Regions from separate parts of the Homo sapiens genome. Here region 2 is linked to region 1. The links come from fine-mapping of genetic effects on gene expression. Tissue or cell type: testis. Region 1 holds a variant in brackets; the other region holds the start of a gene. All regions are shown on one strand. Distances are from middle to middle.

Region 1 (6,557 bases):
GTGTTTGTTTTATTCTGGGTACGACTCCGTGTGGAGATTCTGCGATGTGTGGCCGCATATGTGGATTTCTGTAACCACAACCACATTCGAGATGCATGACCGTCCATCCCCACAGGTGTGAGGTGTGCCCCGCGGGGCCCTTCTCTAACCCACAGCACCCGCCGGCGTCACTCATCCTTTCAAGAGTGTTATGGGAACGGAGTGCGGAATGCAGCCTTTGAGATGGAGTTTTCTCCCAGAGTCTGTTTCTCTCCGTTGCTGAGCACGTTGTGTGGTGTGGAGGCACCACGATGCGTCGGACACGCACCTGCTGACAGACAATGGGGCTGTTCCCAGGTTTTCGCTGTTCCAAATAAAGCTGCTATGATCGTTTGTGTGACTATACATTTTAATTTCTCTGCGATAAATGCCCAGGAGTACAATCGCTGGGTCATAATGGCAGGTATGTGTTTGACTTTTTATGAAACTACCAGACACACAGGATGGATGGAGATGAGTCGGATGCATGGGCAAGGGTGTGGGGCCACAATTAGAAGAAGGGGTCTTGCAATTTTCCTTTTAAAAATCACTTTCAAATAAAGGAAATAGACCCACACATACATGGTAAATTACTTTCCAACCAAGGTGCCAAGACAACTCAATGGGAAAAGAAAGATTGTGTGTGCTGTGGGCTAATTGGCTACGGTGAATCGAACTGCCCTCCAAACAGTGGACTCTGGGCAAGTGCTCGAGGCCTGCCTTTCAGTGGTGATCCTCACCACGCCATCTGGGCCCCACTGCTGGGCTCCACGCATACACACTGGAAAACCAGACCTGAGCGTGTCGCTGCGGAGATGTGCTGTGAGCCACCCTGATGGGGTCACACGGGAACTCCGCCAGCACCTCTAACGGGCCCCACTTGGTAGGTGCCCCAGTTATGGTCTCCAGAATCCAGCCAGGAGGGAATGTAGTCTGAAGAGAAGCAAGTTCTAAACGGGCTCTGGGAAGGGGCTGTCCTTGCACCCGGAGTGAGGACGAGGTATTGGCCCTGTGGGGAGCTGACTGGCTACAGGGAAATATTTTTGAGGAAATCCTGGCCTTCTTCCCTTCCATTCCCACTGGCTCAAAGGAGCCAAGGCATTCCTCCCTCTTCTGGGCAAGTTCTCCATTTTGCTTCCGACGTTACAAGCCACTTCAGACCCTTCCTCCCAGCACAGCCCGAGGGGGGGAACAGTTTCCTGGCCAGTGGCGAGAGGGCCTGGGCTGGCCGCCTTCCTGAGGCCTCAGCCTTGCTGGGATGGGGCTTGGTCCCTGCGGCTGTGGCAGTGACTCGGCCCCCGGCGCCCTTCAGCTCCTCAGGGAGAGGTGGAAAACAGCTCTGGAAAGCCACTGGGAGGGGCGACTGCAGAGGTTAGGGGCCCCTGGCCCTGACCGCTGCTTCTCCAGCAAGCCTGGCCCCCTTGTGCTATTAACCAAGAAATGCTTGGCCTGTTTGCTTCCGGCTGTGAAGCGCTGGCCCTGGTGGAAGCCAGGACAAACAGAGCCCGGGGTAGCTGCTGCGGGGCTGAGCTGGGCTGAGCCAAGTCCTGATTCTACCAACCCTGGCTTTTGTGGGATTTCAAATTGTCCTCTTAAATATCTCCCAGAAAGCAAACATTCTTCCTCTTTAATGAGGAAAGGGATTGGTAGAAGGGGTCTCTTGACATCTCCCTGGAAGGGCCAAACTGGCAGCCACTGGCAACACCACTCGGGTTACCCACGGCAACCATTGTTTTGGGGTAAACTGCATACGTGCCCTTAGGGTGGGAGTTTTCCTGCCGGGAATGCATTTTCATTTTTACACTGAACTTTTCTCTGCTCCCAGCCCGCCAGCCACCGGCAAAATACACCTCCCAGATTAGGGTGCTTTAAAAGAGAAATAAACAGCCCTGTGCCCCCAGGGGCCATGCTTGGGCCTAGTGTCAGCTAAAAAATAGCAGCTTTATGAATCGTGATCACAGACAATCCTTGTGCCATGTGAAATGGACGCAGTCACACTGGATATCATTTTAAAATCTAGAGTTGTTTAGCACTGAGTTGATGAAAAGACGGCAGGATTCCATTAAGTTCAAAGTTCTCTAGCATTGGACAGAAAAGCCATCTACATGTAACCGATTTTCATCAAGTTCAGAGGCTCAAAGATGGAGGTGGAAAAGACAGACCTCAATGAAGAGCCGGAGAAACTCAGGAGTCAATTGAGTCATCAGCCCAGGTGAGTGTGGCTGCTTGGAGTCTCTGGGTGAGCAAGTAACTGCCAGCGGCTTCTTCCTACTCAAGGCCCGGATAGAGCCCATTCATCCAGGCAACATCCATGAGTGTTGATAGAACATTCATCCAAGTTCTAAATGGGCTCTGGGAAGGGGCCGTCCTTGCGCCCAGAGTGAGGATGCGGTATTGGCCCCGTGGGGAGCTGACCGGCTATGGGGAAATATTTTTGAGGAAATCCTGGCCGCCTTCCCTTCCATTCCCACTGGCTCAAAGGAGCCAAGGCCTTCCTCCCTCTTCCGGGCAAGTCCTCCACTTTGCTTCCGACATTACAAGCCACTTCAGACCCTTCCTCCCAGCACAGCCCGAGGAGGGGGAAACCGTTTCCTGGCCAGTGGCGAGAGCTGCAATAGAGAAACAGTTTTACACACGCAGAGCCGGCTAAACAGGACACTAGAGTTTTATTGTTACTCACATCAGCCTCCCTGAAAATGCAGAGACCAGGGTCTCTCAAGGCTAGTTTAGGGGAAGAGAGTCGGGTGGGTAGGCAAGGGCGCTTGCTGCTGACTGGTTGGGGGTGCAGTCGTCGGGGTGTGGGAAATGGTCCTTGTGCCCCGAGTCGCTTCTGGGTGGCACCAGGGAGGCTGACCGGTCCAGGGGGGGAAATCAGTTGTCAGACTTGCAAAAAACCTGAAAAGACATCTCAAAGGCCAGTCTTAGGTTCCACCGTAGTGACGTTATCTGCGGGAGTAGTTGGGAAGTTGCATATTTTGAGCTCCAGAATAAAGGGGGGTAATCCTTTGTGTCTCCATTTTAGCAGAATTCAGGCTCCTCTCGTCCTCGTAGCCTAGTGGTCTCTCAATAGCTTTACAAAGGCTGTTGAGTTTTGCGGAAGGGTTATTATCATTTAAGCTATAAACTAAATGTCTCCCAGAGTTAGCTTGGCCCAAGCCCAGGAATAATTAAGGGCAGTTTGAAGGCTAAAGGCAAGATGGGAGTTGGTTACCTCGGGTCTCTTTCACTGCCATAATTTTTCCACTGTTATAATTTTTGCAAAGGTGGGTTCATGCCTGTGGCATCCCCGGTCCGAGGCTACAGGACTCTCCTCCCAGGGATCCAAGTGACTGTGCAGTGACCGT[G/A]GTCACGCCACAGCCACCAGCCAGAGTGCAGTCCACATCGTGGCCACGTATGGCTCCTACAATCTCAAGCTTGCCGAGAAGGCAGCCGTAAACCCGCACAGGTTAGAGTCCTTTCCCTTGGTTATGGTAACAATCATTAGCACTGGGGTCTTTCCGAATCCAGATGCAGCCACGACCTCTTCTCATACACAGCTGCAGGTGAGATGAACATCTCAGTAGCGTTGTAAACCAAAAGGCGTCTGAGATAAGGCTCAGTCAATTTAGGAAGTTTATTTTGCCAAAGTTCAGGACGCACCTGTGACACAGCCTCCGGAGGTCCTGACAACATGCCTGAGGTGGTCGGCGCAGAGTTTGGTTTTACATATTTTAGGGAGACATGAGACATCAACATACATCGGATGAACGCTGGTTCGGTCCGGAAAGGCGGGACAGATGGAAGCAGGGAGGAGGCTTCCAGGTCGTAGGTAGATAAGAGACAAACGGTTGCACTCCTGAGTTTCTGATTAGCCTTTTACGGAATGCACAATTTACAGGAATGGTCACTCATGCCTGAGTCTGGCTCAGTGAAATGAGGGCAGAGGAAGTGATCAGCTGTGTGCGTTTGTCTCACGGGAGCAGTGGGGTGACTTTGAGTTCTGTCTGTGCTTTGTCCACAAGGAATTTCTTTGTGGGCAAATCGTGAGGCAGGCGTGTAGCTTTTTAAAATCTTTGTAGTTCCCTTACTCAGGAATAGAATGGGAGGCAGGTTTGCCTGGCACAGTTCCCAGCTGGACTTTTCTCTTAGGCTCAGCGATCTGGGGTCCCGAGAATGATTTTCCTTTCACAAGATGAACATGCAGCTCAAAGGGGGAGTGGGATGTGGTTGCGGCCTCAACTGAACGCCTCTCTGGACCCAATAATTAAAAGGACTTGCTCCTCAGATAAAAGTGCTTTTCTTTTCTCAATAGTGAGTCTATGAGGTTCCTATCTGCTGCTTTAACAGATTACCACAAACCTAGTGGCTTCCAACAGCTCAAATGTATTATCTTACAGTCCTGGAGGGGAAAGTGTGAAAAGGGCCTCAGGGTGCTGAAGGCAGGGCTGGCAGGAGCCTGGTGGAGAAGCCACTGCTTTCTTTTCTCAGCCTCCAGAGACGGCAGCAGCCTTGGCCCACGGCCCATCTTCAAACCCAGCATCTTCAAATTGCTCTCTCTTTGACCCGCCCACCTGCCTCTAAGGAGCCCAGACCTTACGCTGGGTCCAGCAGCCTCTCCATCCTCCCTAAACTCCAGGAGCACCCACCGAATAATCCAAGGCTATCTCCCGACTTGGGATTCCTAACCTAGTTCCCCCTGCAAGGTTGCCCTGTTCAAGCGTCCTGGGGGTTCAGCCTCCGACGTCTTTGGGAGGGGCCCTTGCTGTGCCCACCACTGGGAGTCGCTCCCTTCCACACGTCCGCCGTGAACTTTCCATTCCAGAAACACTGCACCAGCTGTAGCTTCTCTCAACACACAGCTCTTTCCTGTCTCCAGGTTTTGCTCAAACTTCCCACTGCCCAGCACGTCCTTCCAAACAGCCTTCACTCACTCTCAATCCCTATGGAAAACTCAGCTTGGGCCTCACGCCCAGGAAGCCTCCTGGCCCCAGGAGGCTCAGGCCCTGCTGTGCACACCACAGCACCTGCGGCCTCCCTGGGAACCCAGCCACCCCCACCCCAGGCCCACGTTTCCTCAGCCAGCTCCTCCCACGATCCCTTCCAAGCTGGCATTCCAGACCCGCCAGGTGCCTTTCACCCTGTTGTAAACTCCGGGAGGGCAGAATTCAGGTCGGACTCATCTCTGTGGCCTCAGTGGAACTTGCTCAGCTCAGGGTCAGGGACAACAGCGTCCGGCTTCTCACTCCTTCAGGTCCCGGCCCTTTGCACATAGGCTTGGCTGCCTGACACGTTCCAGCCAAGGGCTGCAGCTGGCCCCTTCCCCCCGCCCCGGTGATGCCAGAAGCCACATGTTCCGGAGTGTGGAGCTGCAAGATGCAGGCAACCCAGAGCCAGAAGGGGACCACCCGATGGGGAGGACAGAGACCACCCGATGGGGAGGATGCAGACCACCCGATGGGGAGGACAGAGACCACCCGATGGGGAGGACGCAGACCACCCAACGGGGAACACGGGGATCACCCAACTGGGAAGATGGGGGCCACCTGGACGGGGGGAACGGGGACCACGTTGATGGGGAGGACAGAGACCACGTGGATGGGAAAGATGGGGACCACGTGGATGGGGAGGGCGGCACCACTCAGCCTGGTTCACACCTTTTGCAATAAGCAGCCGCCTCCTCCTGGGCTTTGGGCTGAAGGGGGACCTGCTCCAGGTTCTTAGCCGTGAAATGGGCACAGACCCGTTTCTCACCCCTGACAGGGAGGCTGTCCAGCCCTGGAGATGTTGTCACTCAGGCTCCCAGTGACCTCCTGTGCGCTGTGTATCCTGGGCCAGGGCACTGACCTCTCTGGGCCCAGCGCCATCTCATGCTCACAGGTCTGATGACAATACTTCTCAGGAGGTGCTGGGAAGGCCAAAGGGATCATCCCATGTGCTTCTAAGTCAAACACGATTCAGCGTGAAAAACACTGGCCTGGGTCATCAAGAAACCGGGTGCCAGGCAGGATGAAAGGAAGTGCCGCTGGCCTCATCTGAGCCAGAGCCTCCTGTCTGTCATGTGTGTGGGCTCTGACGCAGGGGGACCAGGATGCCCGGGTGGCAGCCGTGATCAGGGGAGGCATTCGGGCCACCTCAGAGGCCCCAAGAGGCTACCTGCCTGCCTGGCCCTGCCCATGCGGCCAAAGTCCACCCCAGGGGCGGGGGCTGCGCCTCGGCCTCAGATGCACCGTCAGCCGCATTTGGCTCCTCTTACTACTGAAGAGGGGAAGGAAGAGTGTGCAGCAGGGGCCTGGGCCGTTTCCCCGGAAGCGAAGAGCAGGAGGCCAGAGCCAGGTGGGCTCCCCTAGACCCTGCGGTGCTGCCGCCAAGCCCCCCACCCCCAGATGAGCCAGCCTGCAGCACACACTGGCGGGGTGGATGCCAGCCGAGTATTCCCAGGGGAAGCACTTTCCCTGTGCCACCCAGACAGAAGACGCAGGTGCTGGTTTCCTATGGGGCTCTGCGTGAGGATGGGCGTCTGGGACCCTGGTCTCCTCTAGGACTCCATGTGTGAGGCTGGG
Region 2 (6,557 bases), 42 kb before region 1:
CTCCTATGTTATCTTCTAGGGGTTTTATAGTTTTACATTTTACGTTTAGGTCTATGATCCATTTTGAATAAATTTTTAGTGAAAAGTGTAGAATCAGTATCTAATTTCACTTTTTAAACTTTGCATGTGGATATCCAGTTGTTCCAGCACCATTTGTTGAAAAGACTATCATTTCTCATTTGAATTGTCTTCGTTTCTTTTCAAACATCAGTTGGCTATATTTGTGTGGGTCTTTTTCTGGACTTTCTGTTCTGCTCCAATGATCCATTTGTCTATTATTTCAACAGCACCACATAGTCTTGATTACCATAGCTGTATAGTAAGTCTTGAAGTCAGGTAGTATCAGTTCTGTGACTTTGTTTTTCTTCAGTATTGTGTTGGCTATTCTGGGTCGTTTGCCTTTCTACATAAACTTTAAAATCAGTTTCCTGGTATTCACAAAATAACTTGCTGGAATTTTGAATGGAATATATTGACTCTATAGCAAGTTGGGAAGAACTGGCATCTTGACAATACTGAGTCTTCCTATCCATGAACATGGAATAGTTCTCCATTTTCTTGGATTTTAAAAATTTATTTCATTAAAGTTTTGTAGTTTTCCTTATATAGATCGTATACATATTTTGTTAGATTGCACCTACATATTTTTCTTTTTTTAACTTGGGGCTAATGTAAATGGTTTTTTTTTTTAATTTTAAATTTCAGTTGTTCATTGCTCATATATTGGAAAGCAATTGATATTTTATTTATAGTCCTTGGATTCTGCAATCTTCTTATAGTCACTTATTAGTTTAAGGAGGAGTTTTAAAATTGTTGATTCTTGGGCATTTTCTATCTGAACAATCATGTCATCTGCAAACAAAGAAAATTTTATGTCTTCTAATCTGCATACATTTTATTTACTTTTCTTGTCTTATTGCATTTTAATATGATGTTGAATAGGAGCAAGTGAAAAGAAACATCTCTGCCCTTTCCTAATCTTGGGGGAAAAGTGTCTAGTTTCTCACCATTAAGTATGACATTAACTGTAGGTTTTTGTAGATATTCTTTGTCAAATTGAGGGAGTTCTCTATTCCTAGTTTTTTGAAAGTCTGTATCATGAATGGGTGTTGGATTTTTGTCAAATGTTTTTTATCCATCTACTGATATGATCATATGACTTTTCTTCTTTAGCCTGTTGATGTGATTAATTTCACTACTAATTTTGGATGTTGAACCAGCCTTGCGTAAGTGGAATAAAGCCCATTTGATCATGGTGCAGAATTCTTTTTATACATTGTTGAATTTAATTTGCTAATATTTTGTTGAGAACTGTTGCATCTATGTTCATGAGAGATATTGGTCCTTAGTTTCCCTTTCTTGTACTGTCTTTGATTTTGATATTAGAATAATGCTGGCCTTATAAAATGAATTAGGAAGTATTCTCTCTGTTTCTGTTTTCTGGAGCAGATAGTAGAAAACTGGTATAATTTCTTCCTTAAATGTTTGGTAGAATTCACCAGTAAGCCTTTCTGGTCTTGGTGTTTTGTCTTTGGGAAGATTATCAGTTATCGATCCAATTTCTATAAGAAATATGTCTATTAAGATAATCTATTTCTCCTTGTTGTGAGTTTTGGTAGATTGTGTCTTTCAAGTAACTAGTCAGTTTCATCTAGGTATCAAATTTCTGGGCATAGAGTTGTTCATTATATTCATGTATTATCCTTTTAATGTCCACGGGATCTATAGTGATGTCCCTCTATCATTTCTGATGTTAGAGGTTTGTGTCTTCTCTTTTTTTTTTCTTGACTAGTCTGACTAAAGGTTTATCAATTTTATTAATGTTTTTAAAGAACCAAATTTTGATTTCATTGATTTTCTTTATTGTTTTTCTGTTTTCAATTTCATTGATTTCTGCTCTGATTTTTATTATTTTTTTCTGCTTACTTTACATTTGATTTGCTCTTCTTTTTCTAGTTTCTTAAGATGGAATTTTAAGTTATTTACTTTAGATGTTTATTCTTTTCCAATATATTCATCCAATGCTGTAAATTTCCCTCTAAGCTCTGTTTTCACTGATTCTCACAAATTTTGATAGGTTGCATTTTCATTTTCATTTAGTTCAAAATACTTTTTAATTTCTCTTGAGGTTTCTTTGACCCACATATCGGGCTGATTCTTTTCTTATCAGCTCACTGATGAACCCATTAAACACACTCTTCACTTCTGTTACAGTGTTTATAATTTCTTGCATTTCCTTTTTACACTTTCTTTGCATTTCAATTTTACCTATTCATTTTTTAATATTGTTCACTTTTTCTATTATTAAAGCCCTTAGCACATTAATCATAGGTATTTTAAATTCCCGATCTGATAATTCCTAAATTTCTACCATATCTGAGCTGGTTCTGATGCTCATTTTGTGTCTTCTGACAGTATTTTTTGCCTTTTGGCACGCCTTGTAATTTTTTCTGGAAATCTGGACATGATGTGTTAGACCGAAGAAGCTGAGGTAAACAGACCTTCAGCCTTTGCTGTGAGGTTTTTGTTTATCTGGCTTTCTTTCTTGTCATATTGCACCAACCATGCCCTCTAGGACAATGGTGGAAAGAAATGGTTAGAATGGTCAATCTTGCCTTGTTTCCTATCTTAAGAGGAAACTGATATTTATGTTCACTCTAGGTTTTTAAGAATGTTCTTTATCAGTATGAGATAATTTCCTTCTATTTCAAGCTTCCTGGGTTTTTTCTTTAATCATTAATGGTTGTTGATTTTCAAATGTTTGTTATACATCTGTTGATGATTAGAATTAATCCTTTATTTTCTAATCATATAAATTACATAAATTGACTTTTTTTTTTTTTTTTTTTTTTTTGAGATGGAGTCTGGCTCTGTTGCCCAGGCTGGAGTGCAGTAGAGTGATCTCAGCTCACTGCAAGCTCCGCCTCCCGGGTTCACGCCATTCTCCTGCCTCAGCCTCCCAAGCAGCTGGGACTACAGGTGCCTGTCACCACACCTGGCTAATTTTTTGTATTTTTAGTAGAGACGGGGTTTCGCCATGTTAGCCAGGATGGTCTTGATCTCCTGACCTTGTGATCCACCAGCCTCAGCCTCCCAAAGTGCTGGGATTACAGGCGTGAGCCACCATGCCTAGCCATAAATTGACTTTTTAAAAATTACACTTTACTTTGAAGTATATGTAGATTCACACACAGAAGTAACACAGAAATCCTGTGTCCTCTTCACCCAGCCTCCCCCAATGTCAACTCACAAAGCTACAGAGCAACATCACAATCAGGACACAAACATTAGTGCAGTTGAAGCACAGGACATTTCCATCACCACAAGAACTCCAGTGTTTGCCTGCTTCTATCACACTCCAGTGCTTTTAAGCAGGTTTTCCCCCCATATTTTACCTAAAGTTTATAGCTGTTACCTGTGGAAAGGTTGGTTCAGTGGGGGCTATTCTGCCATTACCAAAAGTTGGGTCCTGTTCTCTACTTTTTAATTGGTAAGCATGCTTTGTAGTTATGGAAATCAACTCTTTGTAAGTGAATTGAAAACTCCCAGCCCCCAGTTTTTCTTTTATTTACCATGTTTTTTTCCCACAAAGAGTTTAAAAGTGTAAACATATTTTATTAGCTTTGTTTTTTGCAGTGCCTTCTGAATTTTTTATCCAGAGAGGTGTTAAGATTTTCCTGAGTGGTCTTCTTCATTCTAAGATTATAAAAATATGCACCTTTGCTTTCTATTACTTTCTGTCTTTCTTTTCCTTTTCTTTGTCCTGCCCTCCTTTTCTCTATCTTTCCCTCTTTTTTTTTTTTTCCAGCCATGAGTATTTATCAAGTGTGCCTATGATGCAAGAAAGAGAGATGGTCCCTGGTCTCACAGAGCTTATATCTTCATGACTCTGGGATCTGGCTAGATTTAGAAATAATTGCAGCAAGAACTTGTCTGTGTACCCATCAGCAGCACTGTATAAAGCACATTTTCACATTATCAGTCACTGTTACAGTGAAATTGTTAAGTGAGTAAAAATTATCCTTAAAATCTGTAGTCATAGAGATGACGTGGTATATAATGTCCAGCAAATGCACATTTATGGCTTGATTCCTCACATATCTGAGGGGTCTCCCTGGGATAATAGTTGCTATTTAGAATTGCCATCTTTCCTACTTTTAGGTGGAGTGGTTTTCCAGTTGAGTGTTCTTAAGATAAGCATTACTGAAAGGAAAGATAGCAGAAAGAATTTTTTCTTGGTTTCCCTCTTCATAGATGCCAGTGCTCCTGGATCAGAGTGGAGCCTCCTGCTCACGCACTACTTCTGAGAGCCAGTGGCGACCACAGAGGGAGTGCCCTCTTTCTTCTTTCACATTTAAATCTTTTTTAAAAAAAACTTATTAAATTTAATTTTAATTTGTGTATGTGTGTGTGTGTGTGTGACCAGGTCTTGCTGTGTCACTCAAGCTGGAGTGCAGTGGTACAATCATAGCTCACCCCTGGCTCAAATTCTTGGGCTCAAGTAATCTTCTCACTTCAGCCTCCTGAGTAGCTTGGACTACAGGCATGCACCACCATGCCCAGTGAAATTTTTAATTTTTTAATTTTTTTTCTCTACAGCCCCCAATTTTTTATTTCTTTTTTTTGTAGAGACTCACCAGGTTGCCCAAGCTGGTCTCAAACTCCTGGCCTCAAGCAATCCTCCTGCCTCAGTCTCCCAAAGTTCTGGGATTACAGGTATGGGCCATTGTGCCCAGCCTACATTTAAATCTTTGATCCTCTGAAGTGTGTTTTAATACATGCGATAAAGAGTAGAGAGGAGGAATTTTGTTTTAGCAAAATGGATAACTAATTGTCCTAATATCATTTATTGAAAAATTTATCATTTAAATATTTTATTTTGAATCCTCTGTATTAACCCTTAAGTTGCCATACCCTCTTCACAGATAGGGTATCTGAGAATAAGTTAAACATGCTCTTTGAGGTCACACCCCTGGAAACTTGAAACACCAGAATTCAAACTAAGTCTATAGACTCCACAGCTCACTTTTTGCCCCTTCCCATTATAAACCACCTTGTCTAGTGCCAGAGCTCAAAAGAGGCCGTGGGAACCCACTCATCTGCAGCCTCCTGAGAGACCGTGATTTGGAAAAGTTAAGGGCCCACCTGAGATTACCCAACAGCACAAGATATCATTAGTCTCTTTGTCTAGTGCTGCCTTCCAGGAGAACATGTTTTTGGAGAATGTCTTTGTGCTGCTAAAATAACTCAACTCCCTTAGATGGTTCAAAACATCTCAGCCTACAGCAAACTGGGCTTCATTTTGCACTAATAAGGTTCTATTGTTAATTTCAGAATCATATATTGCTATTTGAGATGCACCAATTGGCTTTAGATGGGAAAGGGTTATAAGAAATCGGAAGGTTTATGCTGCAAAGAGGGAGAGTAAGAGTTGGCATGTGGCTGGTACATTCCTTCCTTTTATGCTCCCCTTTTGTGGTGGCGAAAGTATGCTTTGCAGAGAGGTGAGAAGGAGGAAAAGCAGTTGGCTTGGCAGATGGACCAGGAGTGCTGCTCCCAACTGGGGCCCACGGGGCAGGAGCCCTCACATTCCACAGAGGAAGGTCAGCAGGAAATACTGACATCATGTCCGTGTCTATGAACGGCTGGAATGCTCTGTGGTTCCTGAACCATGTGAAAAATATGTGAGGTTGAAATGGGGAGATGCCCACTGCCATGAGCCATGTCTGCCAACATCCAGGTTTCCACCATTGGCTTCTCTTCAGAGCCCTGAGAGAGCAGCCCTGCAGACACTGTTCATGGACACTGACTGTGGCAAGAGGTGGCGACAGACCCTTGAGCTTAGTGGTCTATAGCTAGTAGGATTGATGATGGGGTAATGTGGGATTGATAGGGCGAGTAACATGGTATTAATAGTGGATTCTCTGTGGGGTGGCTGGGGGCATATCATGGGCCTGGTGGTTGTTGCAGCTCTGCTCTTGTCTTACTGTCTGCATGGTAGAGCTTGGCTAAAGCCAAAGGACACCCTGGGCCTATCTCCATTGCCCTAGAGGAGAAGGCAGGGCAGGTTCATTAGTCACAGCTGCTTCACCTGTTCTCTGTTCTCTCTGCTCTCAGGCTGTGGACAGTGCTGGGCCCACAGAAAAAGGTCCCTGACCTTGTAGACCAGGGCTTTGCAACCTATCTGTGGGGAATAATATGTTTTATTAATTTCCAATGTGGACAGAGATTTTAACACCCCCTTCCAGTACTTGTGATGTGGTTTGGACACCACGTCTCTTCGCCCACCACTCACCAGGATGGGACCAGACAGCCTCAGCCCTCCATCTGAGATAATACCCCAAGCAGGGAACCTCTTGGGAAAAGGCAGAGTTGCTATGCCAAATAAATCACATGTCCATTTAGTAATAAACCAACACAAATAGCACAAGTGGATTTTTGTGGCGTTTCCAAAGGTGAGCCTGTCTGTCCAGTGAAGCTGAGGAATCTGGACTGGGAGGACCCAGACTGCAGTCCGACCTCCAGCACCTTAGGCAGCCAGTGTTTCCAGTGCTGCA

Which allele goes with the higher level. Alleles are on the strand shown, and positions count from the first base shown. SD is a standard deviation of normalised expression in the study named.
For the expression in testis of the gene that starts at base 3,344 in region 2, A is the low allele of the variant in region 1 and G is the other (small effect, 0.21 SD a copy in GTEx).

Evidence for each region. PIP is the estimated chance that this variant, and not a neighbour inherited with it, causes the effect.
Region 2: it holds the start of LINC00452, and the variant in region 1 is the best candidate, but not a certain one, in a credible set for the expression of LINC00452 in testis (GTEx, PIP 0.52).

What each region holds. Positions count from the first base shown.
Region 1 is chr13:113,933,928-113,940,484 of GRCh38, forward strand. It overlaps a transcript of C13orf46 not described here. Among named protein-coding and RNA genes, the nearest start is that of SWINGN, 8.2 kb to the left of the region's middle. RefSeq lists enhancers at 2,065-2,566, 2,567-3,048. The variant G/A (reference allele first, on the strand shown) is at 3,363.
Region 2 is chr13:113,891,760-113,898,316 of GRCh38, forward strand. It overlaps LINC00452 (long intergenic non-protein coding RNA 452), which reads left to right and starts at 3,344. Exons shown (of 8, transcript NR_164112.1): 1 at 3,344-3,490.